Linked DNA regions of Homo sapiens: region 2 is linked to region 1. The links come from fine-mapping of genetic effects on gene expression. A gene starts in region 1. The other region holds a variant in brackets. All regions are shown on one strand. Distances are between the middles of the regions. Region 1 holds the start of RERG (RAS like estrogen regulated growth inhibitor). Region 2 holds the start of RERG-AS1 (RERG antisense RNA 1).

Evidence for each region. PIP is the estimated chance that this variant, and not a neighbour inherited with it, causes the effect.
Region 2: its variant is fine-mapped to the expression of RERG in subcutaneous fat (TwinsUK, PIP 0.95).

Annotation. Positions count from the first base shown.
Region 1 is chr12:15,217,556-15,225,902 of GRCh38, reverse strand. RERG (RAS like estrogen regulated growth inhibitor) reads left to right here and starts at 4,486. Exons shown (of 5, transcript NM_032918.3): 1 at 4,486-4,708; 2 at 8,300-8,347. It overlaps LOC124902886, which reads right to left and starts at 5,235. Exons shown (of 1, transcript XM_047429948.1): 1 at 3,925-5,235. The coding sequence starts at 4,658. The coding sequence ends at 4,341.
Region 2 is chr12:15,150,895-15,159,241 of GRCh38, reverse strand. All of the region lies in intron 2 of RERG (RAS like estrogen regulated growth inhibitor), which reads left to right. RERG-AS1 (RERG antisense RNA 1) reads right to left here and starts at 7,319. Exons shown (of 3, transcript NR_046559.1): 1 at 7,172-7,319; 2 at 4,902-5,002; 3 at 3,959-4,046. The variant T/A (reference allele first, on the strand shown) is at 3,823.

The sequences.
Region 1 (8,347 bases):
CATGCAAATATCTGAGCTTCTGTCTCCGTGGCTGCTGCCCTTTCTGATAGCCTTCTGAACCCAGTTGCTTTAGTAGCCCTGAACCCTAATCTCTCACTGATGTTTGGGCTTCACTTTCATGGATATGGGCCCTTAAAATGCCCCCAACAAGAAAATTTGTGTGCCTGTGAGGCTAAACTCCAGTACATCCCCTCTGTCAGATGTGCAGCCCTGCCTTGGTTGTTTGCCAATGCTTCCAAACAGCTATTTTGTATATTTTGGTTAGCCTTTATAGTTGTTCCCAGTAAACAGGAAAGTTCAATCTCAGCTAAAATCAGTCTTGCCTTTGCCTAATATTTAACTAAATAAATGGTAACAGCAATTAAATACTCATCCCAAAGTCAAAAGATAATCATTAGTAGCAACAAAATAAGGAAATGAGTATAATTTCTTGCCATGTAACTTCAAAATGAAATAAAGAAAATAAACGATCATGATATAGAAAGTCCTGGCTTTCCAGAAGCAGTACTGATGAGTGATCAAATCGTAAGTATTATTTCTCACCAGTTAAGAATGTCTGCAAATTTGGAGTGAAATGAACTGAGCAACTACACTTACCCTTTTCTGATGGGAGGAGAGGGCAGAGTGAGTAGTCATAGTAGAAATGGCTTGGGAGAGAGAGTAGAGGGCTCCAAGAATGAATGAAGAGTGCAATCTCAGGCTTAAGGGAATCTTTCTGAAACAGTATGTGATCCTGATGGCCTGCATTAAATCCTGAGACAGAGTCTTTAGTAAAACCTGAGAACAAAAGCAGAGCATGTAACCTCTCTCAGAGGCTGCACAGAGACTCAGAAGCCCTCACCTTCTCATCTCGGGATGGTAGACAGAATGCAATGCTCACCTTCAAACCATTGCTTTATAGAAAAAACAAACAGGCCTCAGACAAGGTAGGAATGAAGTCAAGCACAATTAACTGAATTTGTATCATAGCAAATATGAGTCTTGATCTAAAAAAGAAACCAATAATAAATATAAAAACACACTACACAGGAAAAAAAAGGAGGAGAAGGTCATTGTAAGCAAAAGTAGGCTAATAACAAATTTAAAAACAACAAGAAAAGGAAGAAACAGGTATTCTCAATTATACAATACAGCACCTGCAAGACCTTCTTGAAAACATTGCTTAATGAAGATATCAAGGGATGAATCAAAATAATCAATAATAGAAAAAACATGATAAAAGAATCAATGAAAGAAATTTATTCTATTTAAATATAGAACTAAGTTTAAACCACTTTGGGAATGAGAGTTATAAGTGGAAAGTGAATGTTACAAATCTTGACAATGAACAAACGAAACCTGTGTAAAAATATAGAAGGAGGGAAGAAAAAAAGAGACATAATAAAAGAGCTATTTTCTTCTTTTTAAATAGCAAACAGTCAGTTGATATTGACTAAAACAAATATATGTTTAAGCATAATGAATTCAGATCTGGTTTTATGTAATAATTCAAACTGTAAAGGAATCTTTAGGGTGAATATCTCATGAAGTAAGTGACTATCTCATGAAGTGAGTAAATATCTAAAGTTTGGTCAGCCTTTAATGTTCACTTTAATTTTGTTATCTTCTGCTTCATTAAGTGTACTTTTAAATTAAAAATAGCATCTACAGGATGATGACACTTAGCATATCTGTGCCATTTCACATACCTGTCCATCAGGATGTCTGTTTTCTACAATATCTGGAATGATGATGGTCCCCTTATGTTAACAATGGTTATTATTTCTGGATAGTGTGATTCTGGGGATGATTTTCTACATCTTTGTATTTTTCTACTGTTTGAATTATTTATAACAAACATGATTAACAGCTACACAGACATACACACACACAATTCCAGTTTCTAACATGCTTTGTGGTTATATCAACACTTCGTCTACTTGTTTTGTGTTAGAGGTTTTAGCTGAAGCCTAAGGCCAGGCTAAGAGACTTGAATGTGACAAGGACTTCCCCTTTCCCCAGGAGAATTCTTGCCCAGCAAACATATGTCATGGAACCGTAAGTACAAAGTGTCCTCTGCCCTTCTTACTGATCCATGAGGCAGGCAGCACAAGAGAGCGTGCCTCTTTTTGCTGCTTTAGAGACAAAGGAAGCAGCCCGCAGAATATAGGATACATACGGAAGATGTAACACAGTGGGAGTCAGGCTCCAAGATAGCTACTTCATCTATCTTAGAGCAGCACATCAAGAACTGCAGATGTGTATGCAAATGCCTCCCTAGTTGAGGGAGGAATGCTGTTGTTATATGGGCTAAGCAGGAAAATGGAGAGAATCAGGTTCCATAGGCAAGTTCCAAAAGAACTACTACAAATGGGACCTGGCTTGGGCCCTCTTCGAAAACTTACTATTATTATTTTTTTCTTGAGACAGAGTCTCTTTTTGTCACCTAGGCTGGAGTGCAATGGCACGATCTTGGCTTGTTACAACCACCGCCTCTGGGGTTCAAGTGATTCTCTTGCCTCAGCCTCTGGAGTAGCTGGGATTACAGGCTCCTTCCACAACGCCTGGCTAATTTTTATATTTTTAGTAGAGATGGGGTTTCACCACGTTGGCCAGGCTGGTCTCGAACTTCTGACCTCAGGTGATCCGCCCATCTCAGCCTCCCAAAGTGTTGGGATTACAGATGCGTGCCACCACGCCTGGCTAATTTTTTGTATTTTTAGTAGAGACGCTGTCTCTACCCATGTTGCCCAGGCTGGTCAATAACTCTTATTAAATAAGAGTGGCAAAGTGGGAATTCCAACTCAAGTCTCTGTAAATAGTATATTTACAGATATAGGGTCACAGATTTTTTTTTTTTTATTAAATCTTGCCCTGAGTATAAGATTTAATGGGGGAAACAAGGTAACATGTGAAACCTGAACACCTTAATGCCACACGATTCCATGTAATTGGAATTCTGTAAGATTCTATATAATGAATCTGGGTAATTATTATCCCATCCCAGACTTCAAAGATCTTCTGCATGCTAAGACACCAAAGTCTCTCTCTTTTCCAGGCCTCTTTCTTAAATGTCGCAGCCCCATACATTCAATTTCTTACTGGATGGTCTATCCTAAATCCAGTATGTAAAAAAGCTCAAACATATCCTATCACAACTTCTTCTTTATCTTAATTCATTCAATTCAGTAGGTATTCTTTAACTACCTACTATATGCCAGGCTGTAGGTATACACACTGTATGGATGATGCTGGGAATACAGAAGTCACACATGGTACATTCCTGGCTTCTGGGAGCTCACAGATTAATGGAGAGGACTAAGGGGCAGAAATGAGTACAACACAAACACAATGATAAGATCACAGGGTCCTGTGAGATACAGAGGGAGGCATCTAATCCAGATGTATGTGGTGTGGAGGGAGGGGTACATTAGTGATCAGGAAACTCATAAACCATACAATGTTTGAGCTTTCTCAAAGAACCAGCAGGGCAGCTCCTGCTCAGCTAGGCAACTCCTCTTTTTGCCATAGATCTAGCTGTTCCATTCAGCCATTCACTCGTGGCTGCAGTGACCTTCCAGGTCAGTCTGGACTCTGGAAATTGCCTCCATGGTTACCTCCCTTCCCATTGATGACATTCTACAGATCGTTCAGTTTGCCCTAGGCCCCTGTCTGTTCTATATAACACTGGTTTTCTGGAAGCCGTTTGGTATCTTGGTAAGAATACCCAGATTTATAAGGGAAAAACAATAACATAAGTGCCTCCTGCTTCTTTGCTCAGATGTTTCAGTTTTTGGGAGATCATTTAGCCTCTCTGAAGCTCACCTCCTCATCTGTGAAAGGCTAGTAATTATAATACTAGTTCTTACATGAAGAGAGGGTGTAAAAATCAAATCAGATGAGGGATATGAAAGCAGGTCCAGCACAGCTCGCATATTAATTGTCTTTGTTAGGGTCTGAGCATAATGGAGTATGACTCCAATGCAAATCCTATAAATGCTGATCCTGTAAGGAGGACGAGAAGCTTTTGGAACTTTCTCAAATATATGAATAGAATTTCAATTGAATTCCTTGTTTGTTTTTCCTAGCATCTCTCAGTTCCCAATCCAGTCTGGATTTCATTCCAGCCATTTACTAGCCTTGCGTTACCTTCTCCTTCAGTTTCCTCTTGGGTATCATGGAGATAATTAAAGATACTTCAAAGAGATATTGCGAGGATCATTTGAAATAAGGAATAGAAAACACCACGTAGTGATGCTTTCTTAGGCAAGGTTTTGACCGAGGAAAGCCGCCCTTCGGTGGGAGCCTGGAGGCTTGGAAATAACCAGTGAAAAAGGGAAGCCCGTCTTGGGTGCAGCACGTTAAAGACCCAAGCTCGCAAGCCTGGGAGGCAGCGCGGCGGGAGGAGCCTGCCCCTGCCCCCAGTAGGGGGCGCCGAAGCGCCGCACTGCAGCATCCTGGCCGCTGAGCGCAGCGGCCTTGGCCGGGCTCAGCTCGCGTCCTGCCGCAGTCCCTCCGCCGCTAGTCGGAGCGAGCGCGAGTGAGGAGACCCCCGCCGGGCCACTGGCACTTGCTTCTGCGGCGAGTCCCACCCACGACCGCAGCCCAGCAACTCGCAAACGCAACCTGAAGCCTGGGCTGCGCAGTGTGGGAGGGCTTCGCGATCTTGGGGGACCCATTCCGAACTTGCAGAGGACCGTAGCTCTCCTGGCCTGGAGAGTGTGAACAGGTGAGTGTCACGCACGTGTCCAGGCAGCTCTTTCGGGACGACTTCCTGCAGACCCATTCCGAGCCCTGAGCGCGCTCGGCCTCTGAGTCGGTCCTCTTGGTCACCGGGTTCTCCTCCCAGGGCGGCTTTGGGGTTCGCTGCGAGGGAGATGTGAACACCAGCAGCCTATCTTGACAGGGCTCTCCTAGCTGAGAGGGAAAATGCCCTTTTGACTTAAGGCTGCATTTTCTCCCTAGCCTGAAAGCAAGTGACTTGCAGTCCACAATGGATTTGTTTATTCTTGCAAGATACCTGTTGAGTTCAGAGCAACATTAAATAGCCAAGGGGCTTATACAATTATCCTGGTTTGCTGTGGGTACTGCGTAGTGATAAGAAGAGGAAGAATTCCTAGTAATGAGACCAGGAAAACTTGATTTCAGAACCAGAGAAGGGGAGGCCAAAAAAGAAGAGAATCTCATTTCCAGGCCTAGACTAGGGTCTTTGCTTCCCTAAATAGCTACACTTGATTTTGATGAGCGCATGCAAACAGAAGTTCCAAGCATGATTACCTTATAAAGACGCTTGCTTGCCCCACCCCCAAGAGGAAGTAGAAAGCATGAACCTTGATAAATATAGCCTTGAGAATGATTTATTAGGAATGAAAACTTTCTTTAAATAAGTAAGTAAATAAGGTTACAGTTATCTAAATATCATAGGTCTAACAGAGTGTAAGCTCTTCGAAGGGAACTACTTTTATTTGTATGTGCATAGCGTGAAAGTGTGGAATAAATCAATGAATGCATCACTAATAATACAGGATTTTAGCTAGCGTTTTTCCTTTTTCCTTTAATTTATGTTTAGGGAAAAAAAAACCTACACCTTCAAACTAAATAGGTATGATTTTACCTTTAGAGTGATAGCAGCTGAGATGTTTTTGTCCTAATAAGCACCATCCACATAAAAAGTGAATGGCAAATTTCAGCCCTACTCAGAATATTTCAGCAGAACATTAGGACAAATGGATTTTCTTAGATCCACGTATGGAAGCTCTCAGATTATGAATTATTTGGAACATCAGAAACTTGGCAACAGTTTACTTATTACAACAATTTACATATTTATTTTTGTTTTCTATCTTGTCAAATGTAACTTTTCACATTTTCATGTGAGAAATAAAATGTTGAAGAACTCCTGTCAGTTTTGTGTCTTCCTTTAAGTGATTTTTCTAAACATAAAATTAGGTTGACAATAACCAGCTGTATCTTTATTAGGTTATAAATGGAAAAAATAGCCCACACAATTTCTCTTTCTTATGTGAAATTCCTATGCCTCTGGGGCCATTTGGGAGTTACTAAAAAATGTGACTTGTCATTTTTTTAAAATCACATTTGATGGCTACTTTCATGAAACATTAATCAGACAGATAATTACTTGCATTTTATATCCATGTATATGAACAGTTTTGCATGAAACAAAATTATTGTTTATACTAGCTGCAGACACTTGCGTGTTCAATGTTTCAAAGAAATACTTGCCAGCACCTCTTCTCATTTATAATTTAAATAGTTAATATATCTCCACATATTATGTTTCTGTGATGAAGCCCTGAACCTTAAAAACATAGGGCCTTTTCTTAATGAATGCATCTAAAGTGACAAATAAGGAAATCTTTTTATCTTTAGCCAAAAATATGGGACTGGACAAATTGCAGATGTTTAAGCTTCTGGTTTTTGCTAATAATGATTACTTAGACACTTTGTCATTATTGAGGATGAAGTAAACAATAGCTAATGTTAATGTTGATTTTTCCTTCCTTCAGAGGAAGCTCTGGCACTTTGAAAATCAGCAAATACAAAACCTTATTAGGTACAGGATGATAGCTTAAATACCTAAGGAAGAAAACAATTACATGATAATGTCTTTGTAGAAATACTTTTTCAGGCGGATTTTCACTTTTTAATTTCTCTCTCAAGAAGCTCTTTGTAAAAATTTATAGATGGAAAAATCTGGCAGGAACATTTAACACATTTAGATAACATATTTGTGTTTAAAACATCTTTACTGCCTTGAAAATGGAATGAATTATGCAGACTGGTGTGATTAAGATTAACACGGGTAAAAGTGCTGTGCTGTATTTAGGTTTAAGCCATTGATTGCAAATGTTCGGAATGAGGGGGTCTGCAGTCCGTGTAAAAGATGTGAGGCTTAATGTGATTGGCTGTGCTACAGTATAACCATGGTGGGCAGATTAACGATAGTGAAAATCTCAGGGAATTTACACCGGGTCAGTTTGTCAGGTCATATCTCAAAGTGGAATGCAGTGGACACCATGCTTTTAGAGTGATTAAGATGTTGAGGAGGCAATGCACATGATGAAAAAGGGAGTGAAGGTCAAAAAAACATAAACGAGAGTGTACATTCCGGGAAGAACAAGTGGACAGGCTGGGCCTCATGTTCCTAGAAAAAAGAAGCCTAGGATGGAGCAAAGGGTCCTACTAGATGCTAGGATCCTTGAACGGTTCTGAGTGAAAGAAAAAGTTGACTTGTTTTGAGTTATTTCATAGAGAGAAATGAGGACAAATGAGTAGAAGCCGCAGGGAGACAGTTTAGAGCTCAATATTAGAAAGATAGTTCCTCCTAATTGGAGAAATGAAGCAGCTTTCAGAAGTAATGAGCCCACCTTTCATACCTGGAAGTGGTAAGTCAGGCATGGAATATGGAATGATTGTTATGTCCTAAGGAAAGATTCTTGCTAGAAGAATGGCTAGAAGATTTCTTCAGATGACCCCCACTCCAGCCCCCACCACCACCAAAGCTCTTTCCAAATTTACGTTTCCATGATCCTAAGAACCTAGATGTCACTCCTAAAGCACCAAACTAAATAAGATGTGCTTACTTTGTACATAATGTTATTTCCCAAGCTTTAAGACAGCACTATAAACAAATTTACTTGAAGTCATCATAGAAAAGGAATAACTTGGAGCATGGCATTTATCGTTTTTGTACCAGGGCATTGTGTCCAGCAAAATATAGAAATGTAATCTATGTATTATATATTGATTCCTAGAACATGTGTATCTGTATCTGTCACAGGAATTCATCATGTGATCAAGTGTGAATTGAGAAAAAATTTAACTTTGAGATGCAAAATTGAATTGTGTTGCATTGGAGTTGACTAATATGAATGTATGTTATTCAACCCAAAGAGACATGAAGAGGCCCAAAAGTGACTCTCTCCATTGCCCCACTGCATGTGTTTGTACACTGAATGCTTACAGATAGATGGTAAATGTGTGTATTCACTTTTACTTTCAGTTACTATCAAGAATCAATACCTTCATAAGAAAATTTCTTGAGGAAGTACTTTAGAAATGCTATTGTGTGTGATAATGCACGTTTTAGTACCAACCAGATCCAAATCCAAGTCCTGAATCTACCATTTATTAGTTAAATCATTTACAGTAAGTTACCATAGACTTCTCACAGGATAGTGGTAAAGATCAAACCAGAAAATGTTGAAAAAGTGAATGGTGGCTGGCATATAGTAGATGCTCAATAAATATTAATTCATTTTCCAGTCACTTATGAATTCCCAAATTTCTTTTGTTTAAGGATTGTGGACTCTTCCAAGATTCACAATGATATGGTGAATCCAAAGAC
Region 2 (8,347 bases), 67 kb after region 1:
GGTGACTTCTGAGACAAAGTAATGTCAGTAATGGATTACAATCCATTGAACAAAAAAAGAATACATGGTTCCCTGTTGATATAAACAGTAAGTGTATAAAAAAATCAACAGGGAGAAAGACAAGTTCTTTCTTACAATAGAATATCAACCAATAAATGTAGAAGAAATGACAAGTTAGAAAACTATCATTCGGAAATTATCAAAATAATTGATTCAGGCAGGAGTCACCAGTGGAGGCTGAAACTAATGAGTGAAAGTGTGGTGAGGATCAGGATATTTACATAGTTTCAGAATATCTTCCACAAATTGCTCATTAATTGTCAGATAGAAAAATAATAACTTTACATTGGAAAATTCTAAAAAAATGCCACCTTAATAAAATAAAATAAAATAATGCCACCTTAATAAAATAAAGTTCATGTCACCAATGATGGGACATGAACCAACAACATATGCCTCCTGATATGAAGCACTAAGAAGGACACACATCGTTCTGTAGCATTTCTGCCCCAAAATACCTAATCCGAATCTAATTATGAGGAAGTATTAGACAACTGAGGGACATTTTAGTCTATCTCTCTTGAAAAACTGTGTACTCTTCAAAATTCCTTATACTCTGCAAAAATGTCAAAGATGAAATATCATTAAAAAATGCTGAGAGGCCAGGCACAATGGTTCACACTTGTAATCCCAGCACTTTGGGAGGCCGAGGTAGGTGGATCGCTTGAGCCCAGGAGTTTGATCCCAGCCTGGGCAACACAGTGAGACCCCATCTCTTAAAAAAATGCAAAAATTAGCCAGGTGTGGTGATGTGTGCCTGTAATCCTAGCTACTTGGGAAGCTGAAGTGGGAAGATCACATGAGCCCAGGAGGTCGAGGCTGCAGCGAGCCAAGATCATAACACTGTGTTCCAGCCTGGATGACAGAGCGAGATTCTATCTAAAAAAAAACAAAAAAACAAAAAAACTGAGGAACTGTTCCAATTTAAAAGAGTGTAAAGAGTTATAACAACTAAATGCTATGTTCAGTCCTAGATTAGATTCTGGACCAAGGAGAGGAAAGTAACTAGAAAGGGCATGATTGGGACAATTGAAGAAATTCAAATATAGACTGTGGATTAGATAATGTCATTGCATCATGTTAAATTTTCTGATATTGATAATTATACTTTTGTTATCCTACAAAATGTATTTATTATGAAGTATAGATATTGAAACACTTAAATGTAAGGAGGCAAAATGTTTCCAACTTATTCTCAGGTACAGAAAAATATGAATGTGTGTATATATATTTATTTATACATAAATATTTATGTATAGAGAGAAGGGAGAGTGAATGATAAAACAAATGGGAAAAATGTAAACAGTTTGTGGATCTGGATAAACAGAATATGAGAGTTATGTAATCTTTTCTCATAGCTTTTTTCTAAGTTTGAAAATATATACAAAAGAGTGACAAAAAAATGTTGAAAAGCAAAATTTTCTCATCAGTAAAGGCAGTCATTTACATTGTACTGTGATGAAAAAGAAAAGCCTGGCTTATTCAAATAAGCAGCCAAAGCTCTTATTTCCTAGTCATCAGTTATCTTTGCGTGCTTTGAAGTTGGAGTTCTCTTTCATGTTTGTATTGTTTTTATTTGTTTGTAAGTATAATGTGGGAACCAAAAAGAGTGAAAATGGGACACTCTGGTAAGTTATCTCTACCACTTTAGGGGACAGGAAGCAGCTGACAAGCTTTAGCACTACATTTTCATGGTTGTTTCCCAAGAATGGCCATAAATTACATCCTTCAAGTCAGTCCCAACTAGTGGGAATTCATATGAAAAATTACTTGCTGGTTCTCAAGCTTCTTGCACGTCCCTCTTGACATTTTGTCATAGGAAAACTGGGGGTGGATGGATTGTAAAATATTTCTCAACATTACAAAACATTTTAAAGCTGATACCAGACCTACACTCATATCTGCTGATTACAAATAATTCTAAGCTATTCTGGTATGCCCTGAGCATCTGTCTTATATGCAAAATAAGTGGCCTCTTCTGTTTTCCCCTGTCTTCTTGAACTGTCTGTCTCTTTTCAAAAACTGTGTATTCTTCAAAATTCCTGCAATGCCGAATGAAAAACGGAGGCCATCCACTACAGTGGAAAATGTAGAGCAACTCCAAGAAAAGAGGCTGGAAGAAAAGACAGGCTTAGAGATGTCTGACAGACTTGAAGATGGTTTCCATTTTCCCATTTTGCAAGAGGGGCAATGGATCCTCTAACAACAGAGCCTGAGTTAGTATGTTATCATGTATTACCTCGTTTAATCCCCTCAATATCTCTATGAGATAGGCACTATTTTTATCCCTATTTTGTAGCTCAGATACAGGCTTAGAGGTTTAGAGAAGTAAATAACTTGTCAAATGTGAGTAGTAGGGTTGAGATTTGCACGAAAATGCGCCTGACTTCAGGGTCTGACTTAAGCTTAAACTGCCTTGTTTTATTGATCATATTGATCACTCTATTTCTTTCTCCTGAGGACTCGCAAAGCAATGATAATACCATTCTGCTCTTGCATCATTTGTTGCACATTCTTGTTTAGAAAGAAAATACTAACAACTATTAGAGATTTTCTGAACCTAGTAATTTCATTAACAAGCATTCCCCAAGTCTACAGGGCAAATTTTTTGATACTCACAATGTTACTTCTTGTGAAAATTTTGAAGTGATTTCTGAATCATCAGAGAGATAGAGATTAAAGTGACACTGTTTTAAAAGTTGGTAATTATCATACAATTGCATGAAAGCTGATGTGGTATTTGTGGTAAACTTCCGTATTAGGATGGGTAAGCCTGTATGGCAGGGTTCTTAACCTGAACTCCAGATCCAGCAAAGGGTCCACAGGTAGATTTCAGGGGGTCTGTGAACTTGTATGGGAAAACATTTCATCTACATTTTCATGCACCCTTAAATGACATTTGGCACTGCCTTCCATGATGAATGTAGAAACAAATCACAGTGTTAGCAATACCTGTGACTTTGTCCCTAATAGAAATGATGGATATTTCCATTCGTATCAGTTGTTGCTGATATCTCAAAATGTTATTTTTCGTCATCATTAATGTGAAATCATAATTAATAAGCTCAAGACCAGATTATATTGAACATATTAATAAAGAATGTAATTACTATATCACCTATTTATTTTAAAAAATGTTTTTCTAACAGTATATCAATATTTATAAATATATATATATATTTTTTTATTATACTTTAAGTTTTAGGGTACATGTGCACTTTGTGCAGGTTAGTTACATATGTATACATGTGCCATATTTCATCATAGTTGATTTTATTTGTAATGACATATATTTTATATATATTTAAAAAGTATTATTATGAGAAATAGTTCAAAGGCTGTGCACAAATGGTTTACAGCACAAAAGGGGTGAAAGATCCAGCTCTATAATATAAACTTCATGGTAGCCCTAGTGGAGAATACCCTTGCTTAACAACTGGCTGTTTTCAGAGTCCCCTGGGGGCCCTGCAGTGACTCCAGGAGTAGAGAAAGGCTGTAAATGCTAGAACAAGATAATTGTCAGGTACTACCAAGAAGCCCTACCCAGCCTTCCCAATTAGAAGACAGGAGTCCCCCAATCCCAACCACTTTCAGGTCCTAGTTTCTGCCCAACCCCATTACCTGTTCTTCTTACTCAATTTTAATGAAAGCAGCTCTACTGGCAGCAACTTCATTGTGACCCCAGTGCTCTGGCAAGCTGGGCCTGTGTCAGCAGGCCACAGGGGTGGATGAGAGCCAAGACTTTTGTGATTGCCTCTACCC[T/A]CATTTTCCTGTGGAAACACAGCTCAGAAGGACTATGCTGGAGGGTTGATCAGCTTGGTTATGTATTTGCTTTGCGGAAACCTTAAGTTGTCCTTTTATGTGTCACTTTCTCTCATTTCATTTTTTTAATCCTTTATTTTCCAACAGGCAGGTTCTGGTCACACCTACCCAGGTGGCACCAGGTGTGTGCATGTTTTTCCAAAAGTTACAATGCAGCATAGACACTGGAAAATGAAGATGAAAAAACACAGTGGTGTTAGATTACTTCATATACTTCAACACCATGCCTGCTTTTTCCTTTTTTTAATTGCTTGTTTTATATTCTTTATTTAGTTTTTTCCAGTCTGAATATCTCTTAGCTGAGTTTCTTATCCCAATTAATCATTTTATACATACACTGGTTTCTTTTCCAAGTCTCTTTGTAAAGCAAGAATCAATATGAGGTGTCAGTGTCTAAAGCCTTCACACTTAGCAACTTAACATTTTAAAAAATGAAAATATATAATACTACAATTTCATTTAAATTAACTATTCTGAAGCTCCTCCATCAAATATTAGGAAAGACCCTTTTAAAGTTTAATACATTTTTAAAATTCTAGGTATGAAAATTCTGTTTACATAATAGTCTTTAAGTTGCTGTCTCACCTAAATAAGACACAGAGGCAGTGTTTATGAATATGATTGCCGAGTGAGATTGAGACAAATTTCAACCTACATTGATTGTCCTATTTGGCAGGAGACCAACGAGCTGCCACATAATGTACGCACCAGAAGACTGGCTATGTTCTTTGGCCATCAGCGGATGTCCATGGTTGCTGCCTATAATTGCAGTGTTTTTCCCATTCTGCAAATTTCTCATTAATCAGGTTACTTTAGCTATTTGGCCAAATTTTCCTCGAAGAAAATGAAATACAATCAATCCCTGATTCTTTTCTGATTATTAGAGACACTGCTCTCCTTCATAAGGAACAATAATCAAAGTAGAATTTATATTTGGCTTCATAATGCAATATGTGAGTTTTTCCAACAGATTTGCCCTCTTAATTGCTTTGGTCTGGCAAACTTTAAAAGGAACTTGCCTTACGTGGATGGCAGTATGAGGTTGTCCAGAACTGAACCGGGTGGTTGGCAATCTGAACAAAGCTTCTGTGCTTTATTGATTGCCAGGGAGACTCGGGGGCTAAATGGCAAGCCAAAAGACAAGGATTCAGAATATATAACTGTACTAGTTTGCTAGCACTGCCTCAACAAAGTACCACAAGCTGGGGGGCTTAAACAACAGAAATTTACTGCCTCATGCTTCTGGAGGCTAGAACTCCAAAATCAAGGCGTCAGAAGGATTGGTTCCTTCCAAAGTCTGTAAGGGAGGATCTGTTCCCTGCCTCTGTCCTAGCTTCTGGTAACCTCAGGCCGTCCTTGGCTTGCAGATGGTGTTCTCCTTATGTTTCCATATCATCTCTCTGTGTGTGTCTGTCTCTGTGTCCAAATTTCCCCATTTCATAAGAACATAGTCATATTTAATCACTTAGGGCTTACTCCAATGAAATCATCTTAGCTTGATCATCAACAAAGATCTTATTTTTAAATAAGGTCACATTCACAGATACTAAGATTAGGACTTCAGTGTCCTTTGAGGGGACACAATTCAACCCATAACACTATCTATCTTGAAAAATCACCAGAGAGGATAATTTATAGCCATTGGTAAAATTTATGCAAATCATACAATTTCCCTTCAGTCAATGCATTTATTCTGGGTGCCATATTTAGATGATAGGCTGCCAAAAGTAATGCACCGTGAATATTCTTTTTCTTTATATTATAAAAGCTATTCAATTACTCCTGGATTTTCCAGGAACTATGGTTCTCTAGTTCCTTATAAATCTCAATGGTATTTTTCTGAATCTTACTGCTTTCCTTTTATTTATAAATACTAGACTCTCCCACTTTAAGCAAATTTCTAAAGACTGGGGTAAAAGATCTCTTTTGTGAGCAAAGTGCATGTCTAGGGCCCTGTTATTTAAGAAATTTAAGATCATCAATTTCAAACATTCAAAGCCTATACTGCTGGTTCATATTTTTCACTATCCAGAACAGTAATCTTCACAATGGTTAGCTGTGTTCTCTAAAAGTCGCAGATAATTGTTATCACATTTAAAATCAAGCACCCATCACAACTCCCCAGTTCTTTCTTTTAGGAAAACCTAAAGAAACCTTGGATGACCTTAAGACTCTATGGAAAAGCTGGAAAAACACTGACCCAGAAAACAAATGTGTAACAAGTCACATTTTTTCCATTACTTAAGGGAAATTGTGGTGCGAATTTTTTTCTTAATCTCTCTGCTAAGTGTAAATATGTGACTCACCCGAACTACCTCATTCTTAGACCATAAATATTAGGAGTGATGACTTATAAGGGGCTCATGTTCATGTGTGGTAAGTAAATACTTGTCTGCACATATTAATTTAACAAGAAAATGGCATTTTCCTAAGTAGCATAACATCAGAAACAGTAGAGAATTTAATATAAGTAAAAAGCAGTGTTATATTTTAAGAAAATTACTATGATGAAAGAATTCATTTTTTTCAAAGAGTAATATAATAATATTAGGCTTTAATACCTAAGAACATGCATGCTAGATCTGGTTCCAATCCAAAAAAGTTCTATGAAACTTCAAATACCATGTGAAGGTTAACTTTTAAAAATACATTTCTTCAGAGCAAATTTCTATTCCTAGTCCATGCGAAACCACAGGGTGGTGCTCCAGCTGGACTGGTTTCCTCAATTCAAGTTATCCTTGTCCAGTTTCCTTCTTAGGGCACTGCTACATGAAAACCTGATGTGTTCTGTGTTCTTGCAGCAAACTCCTACTGTGTCCTATCTTGGCTCAGGCAGGACAAAATGAAGCTCTCCATCTCTAGGAGGTGGCTTGCTTCAGAGCCTTCTCTGTCCAAAACAAGAGTTTTTTCCATATTGTTTCTCTCTAGGCTTTTGAAATTAGAGGGGAAACACTATGGATAATAGCTTCAGAAAATATGAAAAGCTCACCTATTACAGCAGATGGGACTGAAGTATCAGTCCATATCTAAGGCAGGTGAATTGGTGCATTTGAAGCATTCCAAGTCAGTAGGACAGCCAGAAATATGAAATGAAAAGCACTAGTTTTCCTTAGCAATGAAATTTTGACTCCTATGACTTTGCTAATGCTGTGTTCTGCTTTCCTTTCTGCCTATTCTATTTGTACAACCTTCTGTGCCTTCCTCAGATGGCTTTCCAAAACATCTGTGGGCAATATTCCCTTCACTGAACAGCAATGGTACTTTAAGTGCAAAACAAAACAGCATTTACCTTTTGCAATTTATAGTTCCTGGGTTATTTCATGTGCCTTGTGGTTATCTCAGGAGCCCTTTATTAATCTCCGAACTGTAGGCAAGAAGGTGGTCTTGTTGTCATGGTAATAACTTCAGTACTTAGCACATGGAACGCAGCATTTATTGTAAAATACTTTTCCAATCAAATGGTTGCAGCAGTTTTAGAAGTCATAACAGTAAGGGTAGCATGCAGTTCATGAATTCCTTCATCAGGAGGAAAAGACTGACCTGATTTATAAAGGAAAAGGAAGCATAATAAAAGTGGAATTCTGTTAACCTAACCATATTAGTTCTCTTTGCTTAGAGTTAGGGGGTGTCCAATCTTTTCCAAGAAAACTTTGTATATTCTGGCAGTGCCCTCTGGTGGATGATTTACTATGATCCACTACCATTCAGTTCCTGGACATTACATTTCACCTGAAAGATTTCTACCTTTTGTTACCACTTAGCATTTTTCCCCCCATCTCAAGATGAATAGTGTTTTCTTTCAAAGTTTCTTGAATATCTACATCTACAATCTACAACAAATGCCACTGGATTGTGGTTTGTAAGGAATATCTAAGGTGAATTCCAGCAAAGTGAATATCAGTTTCTACCACTTATTACTTTCAAAGTCATTAAATTGCTAATATGGGTGCAATTTGGCTGTTGCGTGGAAACACTTGGCTTGGGTATGTTTATGTAAATGGTTCAAAGCTGTGGACTGTGTATCTGGCAAGCTGCTTCTAAGAAACAAAGGAGAAATAGGCATGTTTTCCATTTAAAAGACATGTGGTTCTTATTGACTTACCGAGATTGGTTTTTGTTTTTGCTTTGTTTTATTTTCAAAGTCAGTTTTCCACTCTAAGATTAAGTGTGTTCATTATAGAAAACGTAGAAAATACAGAGGAAAAAAATCACCCATAGTCACAACAAAACCAAGACTGATTTTGGATGTAGCCTACGGAGGTAGAATGCTCCCCTGGGGTAGATTTTAGAAACAGGCTGTAGTGGACCAAAGGGGAGCATGGCATTAAGTTTCCACAAGCTGTTTTCTGTATTTATAAAGTACAATAACAATATTGCATGTATTATGTACTTTCATTTTCTGTCTCAAATTAGGTATGGAGATTGCATAATAATAATAGCAGCCATTTATTTAGCACAGAATTTC